2 linked regions of the Homo sapiens genome follow. Changing the gene in region 1 together with any one later gene gives a genetic interaction. Each region holds a gene or a part of one and is shown on either strand. Other genes may lie near its edges.

Region 1 (3,813 bases):
TCAGCTATATGTTTTACATATTCAAAAAATAACATTTAATCATAAAGAAAAATAAAAAGTAATCCCTAAAATTAAAAACAAACTGAAACAAATGTTTATACTCCTAACTCTACTAAAAAAAACAAAAAAGAAGAAAACAAATGTCACTGAAACACACTCTTTCCAAAAACTTTAAGCCTGAATCCAGCCAAACCTTTAGAACTAATTATAGGAAATATAAGAGATAGGGAACAAGTTAAACAACACTGGAAGAAAACAAATCAAACAACTGGCCTGGTCTCTTCAAAAAGTCAATGACATAGAGAGAGGAAAAAAAGAGGAATTTTTTTTAGAGACTAAAGAGACATAACAACTAATTACAATTAAATCCTAGTTTGAAAAATAAAACTATAAAATAAATTTTTAGACAATTAGGAACACTTAAATATGAACTGAACATTGGATGCTATCAGGAAATTGTTCATTTTTCTTAGGAAAGGCATACTAAACTACTTAGAGATGAAAGATCATGATTCATACTTCCAAATGAATAAGCAGAATTTAAAATACACGTAATAAATACATAAAGAGAAAGAAAATATGGACAAACATTAATAATTGTTGACTCTGGGGTAAACTGGTGTTTATTATACCAGTCTTTCTATTTAATATTTTCAAAATCAAGAAGTTGGAAAAAAATGCTCAATCCTTCATGAGGCTATATGCTAAGAGGGAGAAAGAATGCTTTCTACCATTCTTTGGAAAAGCACACAAAAGTGGGCACTCAATCAAAATTAAGGGAAAAGTACAGCTAAGAAGTCAGAATGTTCAGATGCTATCGTGACAAGCAGAACCTTTAGAAAGATGAGAGTCTCTGCAGCCTTCACTCACCGTAAGTCGCCCCCTCCATTGGCTGCTGCCTTCCATTGCTCAGACTTTCAGGCAAATTTTTCAAAACTGAAATGAGCTACAAAAAAAAAAAAAAGAGTGTGATATATTCAAAATGAAGGGAAGAACAAAAGCAGAAACACATTACAATTCAGCACCATGAAATAACCTATAACTTTTTTTCTTTTTCTTTTTTCAAATTAAAAAAAAAATCTTTACTATTGGCTCTTCAAGGCTGAACCTATAACTTTAAAAGATCTATGTGGCAGGGTAAGGTAGTACATTGGCTTAAGCTGTGAGGATAGGTGTCTACTTGGGGAAACCTCAGTAGAGATTCTGCTTTCTGTAGAGTACAGGTCATTGATTCACTTCTAGAGAATGCTGTGGAAGCTTTGGCATCAGGATAGCCCGGGCTTGGCTATACACACTCTCACCCCATGGGGGCCAAGGCAGTGAAACCTCACAGGACAATGTACTATGGAGTCACCCAGCTCTGGGTTCAAGTCCTAGTTCTACCACCTACCAGCTGTCTCATTGTGGAAAAGTTATTTAGCTTGTCTCTGGCCTTCAATGTCATCATCTGTGAAACAATCAACAGCAACAACTACCTCAAAGTTGAGAGGGTAAAAAGAAAAAGTCCATACAGTATCTAGAACAGTTGTAGAACACAAGCCAATGTTCAATAAACGGCAGTCACTATTATAAGATCATTTGTGAGGTAAGTGCCTAGAATAGGAAATACCATCTCTACAGGTGGGAAAAAAATATTCCTCTGTATAAAATTAACCCGTTCATATGGAAAACATAAGTTTAGTCATTAAACATTTACCCAGACTCTACTCATGCAGTTTCAATGAATTATATATACAAAGCCACAGAAAAAAGAAGGATCATCTATAGGTAGAATGGTCAGCAGAATTCTAGTGCAAATGACTGAAGCCAGGCAAAGAAATGGAAGGAAAGCTAAGAGTCGCTTAGAAAATTGCTGTTAGTTCATTCTGACAGGGATGCAAGGTATACATACCAGAGTGCGGAGAGTGAAATTGAGAAGAATAGTCTAAGACCTCACTATGGCATGTAGTAGGTCATGTAAGATCACCTGTTTCACTTGAAAGCCTTTATTCAGTACTTACTCTTTGTAAATTCTCAAAGATTTACATGAGATCACAAATGCCAGGCTAATTTTTAGGAAGCCAAAGATAGAAATTACTCTTTTTTGTTTTTAAGAAAATTAGAAGTCACAAAATTGTTCTTCTTTTTATAACCACTTAGGAAACCCACTAAATGAGTAAAAAGCAGTAGGATATTGGGGAATTATACCATGTTGGCACCCAGTCTTGACAACACTGCTTCCAATTCCTTTGCAGTGCTCTTGGGTGGCACAGGAACAGTTTCTTGTTTGAGAATTGGGCCTACATCAAACCTAGCAAAAAATCAAAAGCAAATAATGACAATGATTACCATTTCCTGAATCAATGTTTGTCTACACACAAAAAGATACAAGCTGGGTACAGTGGTCTGCATGCCTATAGTCCTAGTTGCTCAGGAGGCTGAGGCAGCAGGATTGCTTGATCCCTGGAGTTTGAGACCAGCCTGGGCAACACAGCTAGCCCCTATCTCTTAAAAAAAATAAATAAAGATAGTTTATCACTGGCTATTAATTTGGCTGTTAGACATTAGCAAGGAAGATATGTCAGTTTGAAAGACGGGAGAACAAAATATGGCCTGTGTTTAGAGTCTAAATTTATTTTTCCCTAAAGCAAAGAAACGATACAGTTGCATATCAGGAATTTAATTACAATTACAGAAAAATTATATCATTAGTAATAGCATGAAAAAATCTCTATTTGTATATGAAAAGCATAAGGCAAAGAATTTATTTTCCATGGAAGTACAGTTAGGAAGTTCATAATTATTTATTTCTATAGTCCCTTCCTCAAAGGATAAGAGTTTTGCCTAGATTATCACCATAGGTGATTATAAGTAGGGCCAGGCGTAGTGGCTCATGCCTGTAATCACAGCACTTTGGGAGGCCAAGGTGGGTGGATCACGAGGTCAAGAGATCCTGGCCAACATGGTGAAACCCTATCTCTACTAAAAATACAAAAAATTAGCCGGGCATGGTAGCGTGTGCCTGTAGTCCTAGCTATTCGGGAGGCTGCAGCAGGAGAATCGCTTGAACCTGGGAAGCAGAGGTTGCAGTGAGCTGAGATCACCCCACTACATTCCAGCCGGGGTGACAGAGTGAGACCCCGTCTCAAGAAAAAAAAAAAAAAGTAAATGCAAGTATATTTGCATTCCCACAAGTCTGACATTTTATATCAAGCTCTGTAAACACTGGTCATAGGTTTTCATGAGCAATATGCTTTATTTAATTTTTTTTTGCTTTTTGTTTTTGTTAATTCTATTTCTAACCTAGGAGCTTTAGTAAAATGTTTATTGTGAAAAATTGCAAACATTCACAAAAACGGAGTGAACAGTCTAATGAATCATCATATACACATCATTCAGATTTTTTTTTTTTTTTTTTTGAGACAGGTTCTTGCTCCGTCGCCCAGGCTGGAATGCAGTGGTGCGATCTTGCCTCACTGCCGCCTCAACCTCCTAGGCTGAAGAGATCCTCTCACCTCAGCCTCCTGAGTAGCTGGGACTACAGGTGTGTATCACCACACCTGGCTAATTTTTTTATTTTTTATATGTTGCCCAGGCTGGTCTTGAACTCCCAGACTCAAGTGATCCTCCCACCTCGGCCTCCCAAAGTTTAGGATTACAGGCGTGAGCCACCATGCCTGGCTCAGATTTTAGAACTACCAAAGTTTTGCCACTCTTGTCTCATCTACTCTCTCTCTTGTTTTCTGAAGTAAGTTAAAGCAAATCCCAGATACCACGTTGTTCTTGCGAACTTGTGAATTATTCTTTTCTAAGGGGAAATTAGGTGGTAACAGG
Region 2 (3,813 bases), on another chromosome or scaffold:
CAGCTAATTTTTTTTTTTTTTTTTTAGTAGAGACGGGGTTTCACCATCTTGGCCAGGTTGGTCTTGAACTTCTGACCTCGTGATCCACCTGCCTCAGCCTCCCAAAGTGCTGGGATTAAAGGCGTGAGCCACCGCGCCCGGCCAGCACGCTTCTTAATCAGCATGCAGGCTGTGACATGCGGAAACCAGGGGCACAGGCTCTGAAGTTTGTACTCTGGAGCTGGAGCAGTCAGGGTTAAATGGGAGCGGCTGGGAAGGGTGTGTTTCCACGAGGCCTTTCTGATGTCTCAGTGCCCAGTCTGGACCCGGGTAGAAGGTGTGGCCAGTGCCTTGAGTCAGTGGAGCAGTTGCCTGTGCCTGGTCTCTGTGAGATGGGTTGGTCAGGGGCTAGGCAGAGCCTGTGCCTGGTCTCTGTGAGATGGGTTGGTCAGGGGCTAGGCAGAGCCTGTGCTGGGGGTAGCAGGTGCCCTCTAAAGGGGCCAGTGACAGTCTCTCTCCCAGCAGTGAGAAACCCACGCTTAGGGGCCGGGCGCGGTGGCTCACGCCTGTAATCCCAGCACTTTGGGAGGCTGAGGTGGGTGGATCGCCTGAGGTCAGGAGTTCGAGACCAGCCTGGCCAACATGGTGAAACCCCATCTCTACTAAAAATACAAAAGTTAGCCGAGTGTGGTGGCGTGTGCCTGTAATCCCAGCTACTCGGGAGGCTGAGGCAGAACATTGCTGGAGCCTGGGAGGCGGAGCTTGCGGTGACCCGAGATCGCACCATTGCGCTCCAGCCTGGGCGACACAGCGAGACTCTGTCTCAAAAATAAATAAATAAATAAATAAATAAATAAATAAATAAATAAATCTGGCTTGAGTTTTGACAAATGTATATGCAGGGTCAATGGGAAGACAGACGCTGGAGGGTGGAAGCCTGACTGTGAGAGTGAGCCCCCTGCTTTCCTGAACAGTCAGTGGAGGAGGTCCTGGGAGCTCAGGTGAGCACCTGAACGGTAGGGCAGAGCCTGAGGGTCTTGGTGGAGACAGGCAAGAAGGTTGCAGGAACCTAGTCTGGCCCAGTGCCTGGGAGAACGGGAGGGAACACGGAGGCAGGGAGGCAGAGGGGTTGGCAGGACCTGGACTGGACTGTGCGTCGCAGCTACCCACAGCTTGACCCCACTGCCTTGAAGTGAGTGATGCACCCTCACTAGTGTTCAGCGTCCAATTTCATCCTGGCCCTGAGTGTGTAACGGCTTTGCCCTTGCGGGGCCCCCTGGGATGAGGGGTGAGCCCTGTCCCTTCCTGGTCACTGTCTGCCATCAGGAGCTGCCCCGCTTACAGCTGTGATTCAGGAGCCACTGCATTTCCTCCAGCCCCCTGGGTGCTGCCAGGGGGTCCTCCTATTCTGGGAGCTGGTGTGTTCTGACTGGAGGCTGCCATGTGCAGAGTGCTGTCAAGGAGAAGGGGTGTCCACTGCCCAGCCCTGAGGCCCAAGGCCTTGGCCAGCCTTGCTGCCAGCGCTGCAGGGAAAAAGCCTCCTTTGTGTGTGGGAAGTTTAATAAACTCCGCTCAGATTGTGTCTCGCAGCGAGTGTCTGGAACCTTCCAGACAAGCCTCAGGCGTCCGGTCCTCCAGTTGGTGTGGAAAGCGTGGGCGATCACCAAGGGGGGTGGGTTGGGGCAGATGGAGCCGGCGTGAGTCCCGTCTCTTCCCTTCCTTCCCAGAAAGGCAGCCCTGGAGTCCATGCCTTGTCCCGCTCTCACCGGCAAAAAGTATAATCTTATTAGAAATAGGAAAGTTCCAAAAAGCATCAATGAGTTAAAAAGAGGGCTGGGCATGTTCGGTCATGCCTGTAATCCCAGCACTTTGGGAGGCCAAGGCGGGTGGATCACCCGAGGTTGGGAGTTAGCCTGACCAACATGGTGAAACCCTGTCTCTACTAAAAATACAAAATTAGCTGAGTGTGGTGGCGCACGCCTGTAATCCCAGCTACTCTGGAGGCTGAGGCAGGAGAATCACTTGAACCCGGGAAGCAGAGGTTGCGGTGAGCCAAGACCATGCCATTGCACTCCAGCCTGGGTAACAAGAGTGAAACTCCGTCTCGAAAAAAAAAAGGGCTGGGGCCGGGCGTGGTGGCTCACGCCTGTAATCCCAGCACTTTGGGAGGCCGAGGCGGTTTGATCACAAGGTCAGAAGTTTGAGACCAGCGTGGCCAACATGGTGAAACCCTCTCTCTACTAAAAATAGAAAAACTAGCCAGGTGTGGTGGCACATGCCAATAATCCCAGCTACTTCATCTGAGGTCAGGAGTTCAAGACCAGCCTGGCCAATATGGCGAAACTCCGTCTCTACTACAAATACAAAAATTAGCCAGGCGTGGTGGCGCGCGCCTGTAGTCCAGCTACTGGGGAAGCTGAAGCAAGGAGAATCGCTTGAACCTGGGAGGCGGAGGTTGCGGTGAGCCGAGATCGCATCATTGCATTCCAGGCTGGGCAAGCCTAGGAGAGAAGAGCGAAATTGTGTCTCAAAAAAACAATTAATTAAAATAAAATCAGTGCCATAGGCTGTTTCTGGTAGGCAGTGGGTTCCTAGGGTGGAGCAGGGAAGGGCTGGAAAGGGTCGCCTGTGCCCAGCCCGACTCCCCGTGCTTCTCGGGGGACAGCACGGCTAGCTGCTGCTGCGGAGCCCACAGTGGGGTTCTGGGGGGGGGGGTGCAGGCAGAAGGCCGCCATGCCTCCCTCCCCCTTTCCACCCCAGTGAGAGTGGGCTCGAAGGCAGGGAGTCTGCCCGCCTTGTGGAGCCTCCGCAGAGGCACCCAGGGCTGCCGTGAGCGCACAGCCTGGCGGTGTCCCACGGCCCTGCCCTTTCCTGTCACTTCCACCTGTTGCAAAACACTGTGCTTTCGTATCTTTTCTTTCTACCTGTTTGGAAATGTGAAAATCACTGCTGCCGTAGGAAACGGGCCCAGATCCGGGCTGTGGCTCTCCCATCCGCACCGCCCCCGCGGTGTCCAGCCAGGAGGTGGGAGGTGGGCGGCACTCAGTGTGCCTGGTTGCGGCGATGATTGGCAGATGCTTGGACCTATGGTAAAGAGGATTTTCGCGAGCTGGGAGTCAGTCCTGGACTTTGTAGGTCTTTACATCCCAGGCGGCCTTTATGGGGTTCCAGCATCTGCTGAGGCCCCTGCGCCAGCCATGTGAGGCCTGGGTGTCCTCGAGGCCTCTGTTTGTGCCCCTCTCTGGGCAGCGGGAGGGAGAGCTCTGAGACCCAGAGGGAGCTCAGGGGCTGGGCAGCCGCAGAACAGCGGGGGTAATGGGTCCACTGGGGGTTCTGGGCTGTGCACACAGTGGGCTTCCGGTGCCCAGCCAGCTGGGGCAGGCCTGGAATGTTGGTTCCTCTCTCAGGATCTGGGGCGCTGCTGTAGCTGTCGGGGAATCAGTGAGGCGGCTGGACGGCCCGTATATCCCACAAACGCCACCGTATTGCTCAAACTGGACTCAATTTTCTTAACACCTTTTTTTTTTTTTTTTTTTTTTTTTTTGGAGACAGGGTCTCACTGTATCGCCGAGGCTGGAGTGCAGTGGCGCAATCATAGCTCTGGGCTCAGGTGACCCTCCTGCCCCCAAGGTAGCTGGGACTGCAGATGTGCACCACCACACCCGACTAGTTTTTTGTAGAGATGGGGTTTCGCCATGTTGTCCAGGCTGGTCTCAAACTCCTAGACTCAAGCTATCCGCCTGCCTGGGCCTCCCAGAGTGCTGGGATTACAGGTATGAGCCACTGCTTCGCCACGTTCACCTTTATTTACTTATTTATTTATTTTTGAGACGG

Evidence for each region.
Region 2: changes in MTFMT (region 1) and STK11 together harm fitness more than expected from each alone (negative genetic interaction), as found in Homo sapiens cells (one large-scale study listed by BioGRID).

What each region holds. Positions count from the first base shown.
Region 1 is NC_000015.10:65,019,327-65,023,139, forward strand, and holds part of MTFMT (methionyl-tRNA formyltransferase, mitochondrial), read right to left. Parts: intron 2,291-3,813; coding exon 2,188-2,290; intron 947-2,187; coding exon 871-946; intron 1-870. UniProt on the Homo sapiens protein: Methionyl-tRNA formyltransferase that formylates methionyl-tRNA in mitochondria and is crucial for translation initiation.
Region 2 is NC_000019.10:1,208,778-1,212,590, forward strand, and holds part of STK11 (serine/threonine-protein kinase STK11), read left to right. Parts: intron 1-3,813. UniProt on the Homo sapiens protein: Tumor suppressor serine/threonine-protein kinase that controls the activity of AMP-activated protein kinase (AMPK) family members, thereby playing a role in various processes such as cell metabolism, cell polarity, apoptosis and DNA damage response.